2 linked regions of the Homo sapiens genome follow. The protein of the gene in region 1 purifies or fractionates together with the protein of each later gene. This does not show direct contact. Each region holds a gene or a part of one and is shown in the gene's direction. Other genes may lie near its edges.

Evidence for each region.
Region 2: the proteins of ZNF274 (region 1) and MRPL27 purify together in Homo sapiens (affinity purification with mass spectrometry; 2 studies listed by BioGRID and IntAct, with this or other methods). This does not show direct contact.

The regions. Positions count from the first base shown.
Region 1 is NC_000019.10:58,178,122-58,186,176, forward strand, and holds the start of ZNF274 (neurotrophin receptor-interacting factor homolog), read left to right. Parts: upstream 1-4,939; 5' UTR 4,940-5,321; exon of another isoform or gene 5,322-5,799; 5' UTR 5,800-5,844; coding exon 5,845-5,877; intron 5,878-7,575; exon of another isoform or gene 7,576-7,590; coding exon 7,591-7,717; intron 7,718-8,055. UniProt on the Homo sapiens protein: Probable transcription repressor. Specifically binds to the 3'-end of zinc-finger coding genes and recruiting chromatin-modifying proteins such as SETDB1 and TRIM28/KAP1, leading to transcription repression.
Region 2 is NC_000017.11:50,367,236-50,370,348, reverse strand, and holds the end of MRPL27 (large ribosomal subunit protein bL27m), read left to right. Parts: intron 1-249; coding exon 250-317; intron 318-2,050; coding exon 2,051-2,257; 3' UTR 2,258-2,482; downstream 2,483-3,113.

The DNA.
Region 1 (8,055 bases):
ACTAGCAGGAGGTGTGTGGCTGGCTTGTTCCTTGTCTACATCCTAATGGCCTAAAGAAAAGATGCCCCACACTAAGGACAGCAAGAGGGAAAGAGTGAGCCTCATCCTCCGTGACTTCAGTGGGCAGCTTAACCAGCACCAGAAAAGACCTATACTTGCAGATTTTCTTTGTGGGAAAACGGCGTTGGTTATTTGGGTTTTTATTTATTTCCAACCAAACATGCCTTAACGGATACAGGGTGCAAAGGCATGTACTAGATTATTCCAAACCTGCCTCACTGGTTTGTCCGGCATTCTGTGGACTTCCTGCATTCCTCTTTGAGGCAGGCCGTTTTCTGGAGGTTGTTTGTGATCGGCCTCTGCTCAGAGCCCAAATTCTTAGCCTTTCCCCCATGTGTTATGTCCAGTGTGGATTATCTTGATGGTGAGTTTACCTTTGATGTTGGGGAAAACAGGCAAAGAATGAATGAGCAGCAGTAACCAAAGAGCCTCTTTTCTGGGAAAAAAGCTATGATATTAATAATTTATAGTTCAAATGCACATTAATTTATCCATACTTCTGTAACCTTACATTCCCAAGCTCTCAGAAGTTCAGAGAGGTGTCCTCAAAGCTCACATTTCAAAGATGGAAAGACACATCTTTCTTCTTTTTAAAAATGATTTTAAAATGTATCCCCCTTTACATGGAACAATTTGAGATGCTCTGTGTGATGAAACAGAGACAGAGAATGATGAGTGGAGATCAAATCCTGGGTCCATGATTCAGTTGCACAGCTGGCTTAGGACTCAGTTGAACACCACTAGCTGCCATAATGGTCCAGCTGCCATAATGGTTTGGGCCAACTTATAGCTTTACATATTTTATTCTTAGTCATATGTTGTTTATTTATTATTTATTTATTCATTTATTTATTTTGAGATGGAGTCTCGCTGTGTCACCCAGGCTGGAAGGCAGTGGCACAAACTCGGCTCACTGAAAGCTCCACCTCCTGGGATCATGCCATTCTCCTGTCTCAGCCTCCCGAGTAGCGGGGACTACAGGCGCCCGCCACCATGCTCGGCTAATTTTTGTATTTTTAGTAGAGACGGGGTTTCACCATGTTAGCCAGGATGGTCTCGATCTCCTGACCTCATGATCTGCCCACCTTGGCCTCCCAAAGTGCTGGGATTACAGGCGTGAGCCACTGCGCCCGGCCATATGTTGTTTAATTTAAACCAACAGTAGACCATTGATTTAAAAAAGCATATGGGGCCAGGGGCAGTGGCTCACTCCTGTAATCCCAGCACTTTGGGAGGCCAAAATGGGCAGATCACCTGAGGTCAGAAGTTCGAAACTAGCCTGACCAACATGGTGAAACCCTGTCTCTACTAAAAATATAAAAATTAGCTGGGCGTCGTGGCATCTGCCTGTAATCTCAGCTATTAGGGAGAATGACGCAGGAGAACCGCTAGAACCCGGGAGGCAGAGGCGGAGGTTGCAGTGCCATTGCACTCCAGCCTGGGCAACAAGAGCAAAACTCCATCTCAAAAAAAAAAAGCACATGGAAAAATATTAATATATTTAAATAACTCAGTATCTCAATAAACCTATGCCTGACTATGTGGAATATATATATATTTGAGATGGAGCCCCCTTTAGTAGAGACGGGGTTTCACCATGTTGGCCAGGTTGGTCTCGAACTCCTGACCTCAGGTGATCCACCCACCTCAGCCTCCCAAAGTGCTGGGATTACAGGTGTGAGCCACCGCACCTGGCCCTATGCAGACTATATTAAGAGAGAAAAAGTAAAAATTAAACTTTGCAATTGAATGAAATAACTACTATTTCTACAACACACATTTTCACTTATGATCCATAATGCCTTCTATGTAATTCAAAATTCCAGATATTTTCTAACAGAAAATTTCTCCCTGTTATGAGTCTGCAAAATTTATATGAACAAGGCTATTTATATTTTGTCTCTCTTCCACCTAGTGTAAATCTTCTTGTATTTTGCTACAGATATACTCATGTGTTTGATGGCAGGTGCTACCCCACACCTCTTAGGGATTTACACACTGTATGGTGTAAATACATTACCATCCTACTAAAATCCAAATGATCATGAATTCCAAAATACATCTGGCTCAGAAGGTTTTGAACAAGCAATCGAGGCACTGTCTAAATCCAACAACGATGAATAAATTTTTTCAACATTTTACATGTTTAATAGTTAACATTTCTTCAGAAGTCATTTTTATTTTACAAATTACAATAAACAGCATATTTAATTTGCTAAACAGGAAAAGAGTATGCAGTTATTAAAAGTTGAATTAAAATGGCTCTCATAAATCAATCTTCAATAATATGCTTATATAAAACCATCTTTAGGTTGGGCACAGTGGCTCAAGCCTGTAATCCCAGCACTTTGCGGGGCCGAGGTGGGCGGATCCTCTGAGGTCAGGAGTTCGAGACCAGCCTGGCCAACATGGCAAATCCCCATCTCTACTAAAAATACAAAAATTAGCCGGGCATGGTGGCACGCCCGGCTACTCAGGAGGCTGAGGCAGGGAGAATCACTTGAACCCGGGAGGCAGAGGTTGCAGTTGAGCCGAAATCACGCCATTGCACTCCAGCCTGAGCGAAAGAGCGAGACTCTGTCTCAAAACAAAAAAAAAAAAACAAAACATCTTTGGTCAGGCATGGTGGCTCACGCCTGCAATCCCAGCACTTTGGGAGGCCAAGGCGGGAGGATTGCTTGAGTCCAGGAGTTCAAGACCAGCCCTGACAACACACTGAGACCTCATCTCTACACAAATATTTATTAAAAATTAGCCAGGTGTGGTGATGCACACCAGTAGTCAGTCCTAGCTACTTGGAAAGCTGAGATGGGAGGAACACTTGAGCCCAGGAGGTTGGGCCAGCAGTAAGCCATGACTGCAGCACTGCTCTCCAGCCTGGGCAACAGAACAAGACCCTGTCTCAAAAACAAATTCTTTTAATCAAAAATCAGGTTTTATCCTATACCACATAAATAGAAAGAAATCATTAGAAGAATTTCCACCTGCCTGGGCAACATAGTGAGGTTTCTGTCTCTACAAAAAAGTACAAAAGAGGCCAGGCGGGGTGGCTCATGCCTATAATCTCAGCACTTTGGGAGGCTGAGGTGGGCAGACTGCCTGAGGTCAGGAGTTCGAGACCAGGCTGGCTAACATGGAGAAACCCCGTCTCTACTACAAATACAAAAATTAGCCAGGCATGGTGGCACACACCTGTAGTCCAAGCTACTTGGGCAGCTGAGGCAGGAAAATCGCTTGAACCCAGGAAGCAGAGGTTGCAGTGAGCCGAGATTGTGCCACCTCACTCCAGCCTGGGCGACAGAGCAAGACTCTGTCTCCAAAAAAAAAAAAGCCAGGTGTGGTGGTGTGCACCTGTCCCAGCTATTTGAGAGGCTAAGGTGGGCGGATCACTTGGGCCCAGGAGGTGGAGGCTGCAGTAAGCTGTGATCGCACCAATGCATTCCAGTCGGGGTGACAGAGCAAGACCCTGTCTCAAGAAAAAAAAAAAGAAAGAAAAAAAAGAATTTCCAAGGGGGTTTGCTTCCTTGTGATTATGAAGGGCTAGACGTATCCTATTCAAATCCAGAACAAAACAAGACTATTAGTAAACATGACTACTTAACATAGCTCTGTCATACTAGCTAGGACTATACAATGTTAATTTTTTAAAGTTGAAATATGGAAAAAGAAGATATCAAATTACTTATTAATTGGGGATGGTGTTGTATCTATAATAGACACGAAAAATCCAATGAAATATTATTAGACTATAAGATATCTGCACAGTCTCTGAGTAAATACTCCTATGCCAAAATCAACACACTAACAGCAACAATTAAACAATGTGTAGCCTGAGGTTGGATCCTCCACAGTGACCAAAAAAACCAACAACCCGTGGAACAAGTTTAGCAGGCAGTGTACACGACCACCAGAGGGAGGCAGAGGGCTGCTGAGACCTGCCAGGAAATATCAAGAAAGAGGACACAGGGTCCTGAGCACTGAGAGAGATCATTAGGGCCCTCAGGTCCCAAGAAGACAAGACCATACTGGGACCTGGGACCTAAGGAAGATAAGAAAACACCAGATGTCGGTCCTTGAGGAAGCCAAGAGAATACCTCCTTGTCCTGAGCTCCCAAGGAAGATGAGAGCACCCTGGGCCCAAGGATGGGTGGCACACACCAGGTCCTGGACAGCTACAGACTTAGGTTTCCTCTCCCTAGACATGAGCACCTCAGCTTCCAGGAGCAAACTGGACCACAGGGGGACACTAGGCAGAGGATCCTGCTCCTCCTCCCCAATGCCTGGGGTACAGTTAGCCCTGATCATCTCTCCAGAACTAGGGTAGACGTTTGGCCTCATTCCCATCACACTTGTGGTCCACCTAGTCTTCCCTCCTTCCCCTTGCACACCCCTGACCTTCCTACTCCCTTCCTCTAATCCCCAGAACTAGGGTGGACGTTTGGCCACGTTCCCATCACACTTCCGGTCCTCCGAGTTTCCCTCCCCTCCCTGACCTTGAGTGGACACTTGGCCCTGTCCACCCTCACTTTCAGGCAGGACCCATCTCCCAGAAACATAAGTGCCGTCAGTCCCAACTCCTGCACACTTCCGGCTCTCCCAGTCCTCCCCTTCTTTCTCGACTTTGAAACTGGTGGAACTTCAGTACCTCTCCCCACTCCCCCCGCGACTTCCGTCTTCCAGTCCCCCTCCTTCCCCAAAAGTTGCGTGGACTCTAGCCCCGCCTCCTACATTCTCCCCGCCCTCCCTGTCCCCGCCCCTCCACCCAGATGGACGGCCAGTTAGGCCCGCCCCCTGCACTTCCGGCCCTACCCGCCCTTCCTCTTCCCAAGGGACGTCATAATTAATCCCGCCCCCACCGCCACCCAACCAAGCATCACCCATTCCAGCACTTCCGGCCTGACCCCTGTCCAGCGCCTTTCCTTTCTCCAGCTTCTGCTCTGCCCCAAGAGTGGTCGCCTTCGTGGCAGGGCACGACTCTCTCCCAGCTCGGGTCGCCGCCCACATTAGTGTGGGGCCCTGCGGCCTAGCGTCCCTCACCAGAGGCCTCCCCTTGCCTAGCTGGACCGCCGAGGGACATCGACGAGTATCCTCCTCCTGCTGTCCCCGGCTTCGCCTGCCGCCCCTAACCGGCCAGTCAAGATGGCCGCCGCTGGGTGAGGCAAGCTGGCGCGCCGCGGGGGCGTCTGGGAGTTGTAGTTCGGGACGGCGGGCTGACGCACTTCGCCGCCGGCCGACGGGCGCCATTGTGCGGCGCGCGCCGGGTGAGTGCCGCGCGAAACCTGCGTCCGTCGGGGGCTGCGCTGGGCGGGTCCAGAACCGTTAGTTGGGGGCGAGCGCGGCCTCTGCATTTTCCGCCGAGCTCGGGTACCCTGAGCCGGCCGTGCCTGCAGTCCTCCCGCCGCTCTGTGGGATGGGGTCGGTGACCCGGAACCCCGAGGGGAGACAGTGCTTTCGGGGCGCCGCGGTGGAGAGAACAGATCGCCTCCGGAAGCGTGGGGTCTGGGCCAGGGAGGCGATCCCCTCCGATGCGCGGGACAGAGGAGGCTCGGTGTCCTCTCGGGGAGGGGAAAACTGGTCCTATCCAGTCCTGTGGGAGTCCTATGACTCACTCTGGGCGTTTTCCAGTTTGGGTGGACTTGTCATTTCCCGCTGAGGGAGCCGTTCCTGGGCGGAGGCTGCGGTAGCTCCCCAGCGGACACCTTAAGCCTCTCCCTCCCCTCCCAACTTCGGTTTCCTCAGGACTCTGCCCACTTCCACCAGAGACACATTGAGAAGGAGGAAACTATGGCCTCCAGGCTTCCGACGGCCTGGTCCTGTGTGAGTAGAGGCTTCCTTCAGCTTTTGAGTCCGCTACTGCACCTGGGAGGATGCGGATGGTGGTGAGATACCACCTTCCCTGAGATACCCCCATCCTCCAGAGCACCTCGGGGAGGGGGTAGAGATTGGTTGGGCATGAGAGATCCTGCGTGATGGTGGAACCGCAGGTTGCTTGGTTTTCCAAGGGTGTAGTTAGAATAGAGACCAGATTGTAGGGGCTTCTGAAGGCCAGGTTAAGGCTCTTGCTTGTATCCTTTATATTGGGAAGAGTAATTGACAGGTCTTTTGTTTGTTTGTTTTTTGTTTTTTGAGATGGAGTCTCCCTCTGTCGCCCAGGCTGGAGTGCAGTGGCGCGATCTTGGCTCACTGCAACCTCCGCCTCCTGGGTTCAAGTGATTCTCCTGCCTCAGCCTCCCCGAGTAGCTGGGACTACAGGCGTGTGCCACCATACCCAGCTAATTTTTTTTTTATTTTTATTTTTTGTGTGTGTTTTTTGTGGAGACGGGGTTTCACCATGTTGGCCAGGCTGGTCTGGAACTCTTGACCTAAGGTGATCCGACCATCTCGGCCTCCCAAAGGTCTATGCAGGGATCAGGCTTATGTTTAGATTTCAGCAGATAAATTGGCATCAAGCAAGAGGTGACAGCAGCAGAGTTCAATAACAAGTAGAAAAGACAGGTGAGGATGGATCCCTGACAGGTGAAGGAGATAGAAAGAAGCATCAGGGCCCTGGGTAGGGGCTGACGGCTTGGGTGTGATGGTGCAGCTCAGAGAATTCCCTAGGAGGCATACGCACCACTCCCAAAGTCAGAATTTTCAAATGAATAAGAAATAGGGGGCCGGGCGCGGTGGCTCACGTCTGTAATCCCAGCACTTTGGGAGGCCGAGGCAGGTGGATCACGAGGTCAGGAGATTGAGACCATCCTGGCTAACATAGTGAAACCCCGTCTCTACTTAAAAAAATACAAAAAATTAGCCGGGCGTGGTGGCGGGCGCCTGTAGTCCCAGCTACTCGGGAGGCTGAGGCAGGAGAATGGCGTGAACCGGGGAGGCGGAGCTTGCAGTGAGCCGAGATGGCGCCACTGCACTCCAGCCTGGGCGACAGAGAGAGACTCCGTCTCAAAAAAAAAAGAAAAGAAAAATAGGGCCGGGTGCGGTGGCTCACATGTGTAATCCCAGCACTTTGGGAGGCCGAGGCAGGCAGATCACAAGGTCAGGAGTTCGAGACCAGCTTGACCAACATGGTGAAACCCCATCTCTACTAAAAATACAAAAATTAGCCGGGCATGGTGGTATGCGCCTGTAATCCCAGCTACTCAGGAGGCTGAGGCAGGAGAATCGCTTGAACCTGGGAGGTGGAGGCTGCAGTGAGCCAAGATTGCGCCACTGCACTCCACTAGGAGACAGAGTGAGACTCTGTCTCAAAACAATAAATAAATAAATTAAATAAATAAATAAATAAATAAAATGGACAGATTTTCATATGCTACAGAGATCTCATGTGTTGCTCTCCTTATTGTAACCTGAATAGAGTCAAGCTTGGGTTTGCTTGGGGTTTCAGACAAAGACAGGAACTCAGGATGAGACTCCCAAAATGCCCTTGGGTCATCTTGTAGACCATTCTGTGCTTTCACTGGCCTGGTCAGCCTCCCCTGTCTTTCTTTTGTCGTGGATGCGGATGGCCTGTGGCTGAACAAGAATCTGGATTTTTAGGAACCAGTGACCTTTGAAGATGTAACACTGGGTTTTACCCCGGAAGAGTGGGGACTGCTGGACCTCAAACAGAAGTCCCTGTACAGGGAAGTGATGCTGGAGAACTACAGGAACCTGGTCTCAGTGGGTAAGGCTGGCCTCCAGGTCAAGAAGGATCTGTGCTTTGTAGCACAAATGTAGCACCTCTGAAGTATGTGTCTGCTTGGGCTCACACTGCAGGGGCACCAGTAGGAAAAGGGCAGCTTTTCAGTATGACTTCTGAATCATTGCCTAGTCCATCCCTCCCTGAATACCAGGGAGATGGGTCTGTCAGGGATGTTTTCAGCTGCAGTAGTGGATGCTTATTGTTCTTGCAACAAGAGTTCCGGCCAGGCATGGTGGCTCACTTTAGGAGACTGAAGCAGGAGGATTGCTTGAGCCCAGGAGTTTGAGACCAGCATGGGCAACATAGACCGTGTCTCTATT
Region 2 (3,113 bases), on another chromosome or scaffold:
ATAATTGGCTCCAGTTTAAAGGAACGGATAAGACCTGAGGAAGGGTCATCGAGTGGGTGGGTGTGAGCCATAACCATGCAATTAGAGACAAGAGCTGCTGGGTGGCAGATCCTGCGCTGCTTGTGTTGGACTGTCTGGGAGTTGTTTTTGGCCAGGGGCAGGCTTGGAGGTTGGTGTGCAGCATTTGGGCCATCATGTTTTCTTGGTAGTTTGCTATGCTGCCCCAGTCACTGTGGACTTCTCTTCTAGGTCACTATGTTCATGCTGGGAACATCATTGCAACACAGCGCCATTTCCGCTGGCACCCAGGTGCCCATGTGAGTTGCTCCGTTGCTGCCCCCCTTTTTCCTTTTCTAGGTTGACCTCTCCTTGCCCCTAAGCATGGTAATAACAGTTGCATGTATTGAGTGCTTACCAAATGGCAAGCATTGTGCTGATTCCCATGCCTACACGATCTCATTTCTTCCTTACCACATCCCTGTAAGTAAGGTGAAATGCCAGAGACCTAGACGGGGTGGAAGGAGCAAGTGACTGCTGGGATTTGCACCAGGTCTGCCTAACTCCCAGATCACTATGATTTGCCCTGGTGTTGCATTGGCCTGGTATTCTTGGTTCTCCTTTCTAACCCTCAGTTCTTGGAGGACAAGATACCTGGTGATTTAAAATATTATTTTAGTCTTGGGAAACTAATTTCAATTTATTAGTTTTTCATTATTCTAAGACTTCTTCCTTTGTATAAACTTACTTGCAGATGGTTGAAAGATAGCTTGAATTTAATGAAATAGAATTCAGTGTGCCAGGAGTTAGGTTCATACCAGGTGGGGATTTCAGTTTCAGCAAGTTGGCATCATTTTTATAGGGTAGGACAGTTCTTTGTTACAGAGACATAACGATACTGTACTCTCCACATTATTTTAAATATTAGTTGCCTTTGTAAACAGTTTCCCCTCCCCCACCCCTTTTTCGATAATTTTAGTAGGTACAAAAAGGTTGATAGTAACCTGTATTTATTTCAAAGATGCTAATTTGTATGTGAATTGATTATGTATGTAGTAGCTTTTTACCTTTTAGAACTTAAGACATTAGATGTGTGGCTATGTCAACAATAATAATCAAAGCTAACACATTTTGAGCTAGACAGTATTCTAGGCCCTTTATGATTGTTGAGCATTAATCCTCAAAATGACCCTGTAAAATAGTTAATATTATCCCCATTTGACAGACGAAAAAATAGAGGCACAGTGAAGTAACTTGCCTAAGACCACACAGGAGTAAGTAGCAGTGCTGGTATTTGAACCAGGCATCCTGGCTCCAGAGCCCATTCTTTTAATCAGAGAGACAGAGAATAATGCTGGACTACCTGGGTAAAATTTGCCACACACCCAGCCTGAAGTTCTAAAAGAAAAAGCTAAAAAATATGGTTAAAAACTGTATATACAACACAGTTTAATCTCTCTGCTTCATATTTCACATCTGAAAAGTGGCGTTGGAAATAATACCTCTTTCACTAGGTGAGAATTAAATGACTTAATGTGTATTAAAGGGCTTACATGGGTATTAGCTAATGCAGTAGTATGATTGTTTTATTAGCATATGCATTATCCATATAGCTTTGGTTTATATTTTCCATAGAGCCTAAACTTTATAGATCACTATCTAAATGAAAATTTACATCAAACTAGTGTTTTAATATGACAGTTCTAGTGTTGTTTAAGTCTAAGTGAAGATTTAGGGCATCTTCCTGGGTTTTGGGATTTGTGCAGTGTGGCTTCTGACCAGCTGCATAGACATGGCTCCAGGTAACAGTCCCTGGGACTGAGCAGTGGCCCATGTTGGCTGTTGGAGCTTTCTTTTCCCTCATTTGTTATGAGTCAATAAAGAAGCAGAAGGTTTGGACGTGCTAGCCAGTGGGAAAGGGAACCTGAGATGGAGCTCTCTGATCACCCTTTCAGCCCCAGGGCCCGGCTCTGTGTGAGAAGTCTGTCCCAAAATTCTGGGACGGACCACCTCGCTGACCAGCTGACCAGCTGACCAGGTCTGTGTGTTGCAGGTGGGTGTTGGGAAGAATAAATGTCTGTATGCCCTGGAAGAGGGGATAGTCCGCTACACTAAGGAGGTCTACGTGCCTCATCCCAGAAACACGGAGGCTGTGGATCTGATCACCAGGCTGCCCAAGGGTGCTGTGCTCTACAAGACTTTTGTCCACGTGGTTCCTGCCAAGCCTGAGGGCACCTTCAAACTGGTAGCTATGCTTTGATGTCCTGTTGAGGCCATCGGACAGAGACTGGAGCCCAGGTGACAGGAGATGGTGATACCAGAAGTCAAGGGTTGGGGTGGCGACACGGCCTCCCGAGGAAGAGGTCTGCTTGATGGTGACTCTGCAGGAGACTCTGAAGTGACTGCTGGGAAACCCTTTGGGAGACCTGACCTGGGGCCAAAAATAAAGTGAGCCAGCGTCATGAACGCATGCTATTTAGGGACACACCTGGATGGAACTGCCTGGTGATCTGTTGGTCCTTACCCAGGTTCTCTAGTGCACACCAACGGGGAGCCTCAAAGCAGGAAAGAACATATCTGAGTGAGGAAATGAGAAGGGGGGACTTTGTAGGAGGGACTTGCTTTGGCACTGTCCTCCAGAGGGGGAGGAGGGGAGCTTGTGCTTGAGGGTGTCATTGCTGCTTCTCCTCTTAGATCCCAAAAAAGGCCAAGGGCTGGGCCCTGGGAGGAGGGGTGGGAGCAGCCAGTAAAGGAAGCAACACAGTCATGTTCTCCTGTAGCCACATGCCAAGGGAGCTGGGGCTGCAGCCCCAGAGGTGGCCACAGGAAACCCTCTTCCCTGCCTGTCCAGGTCTAGGGCAGAGAGAGAGCTTGTGGGATGGCAGGAGATGCTTCTGAGAGGCTCAGTCAGGCCCCAACTGCCCTGGACTACCGAGGTCTTTGCAGTGGTAGGGCAGAGTAGGAAACAAATGGCTTCTTCCCGCTCACCTGAAGAGCTAGGCGCACCAAGCCCACATTCTCTTCTCGTTCTTGATTTATCTCAAACGATAAACAGTAGCAAAGAATCTGGCTTCAGGAATACTCGGTGAGGGCTTAGAGTGGGCTGGGGTCAGGCC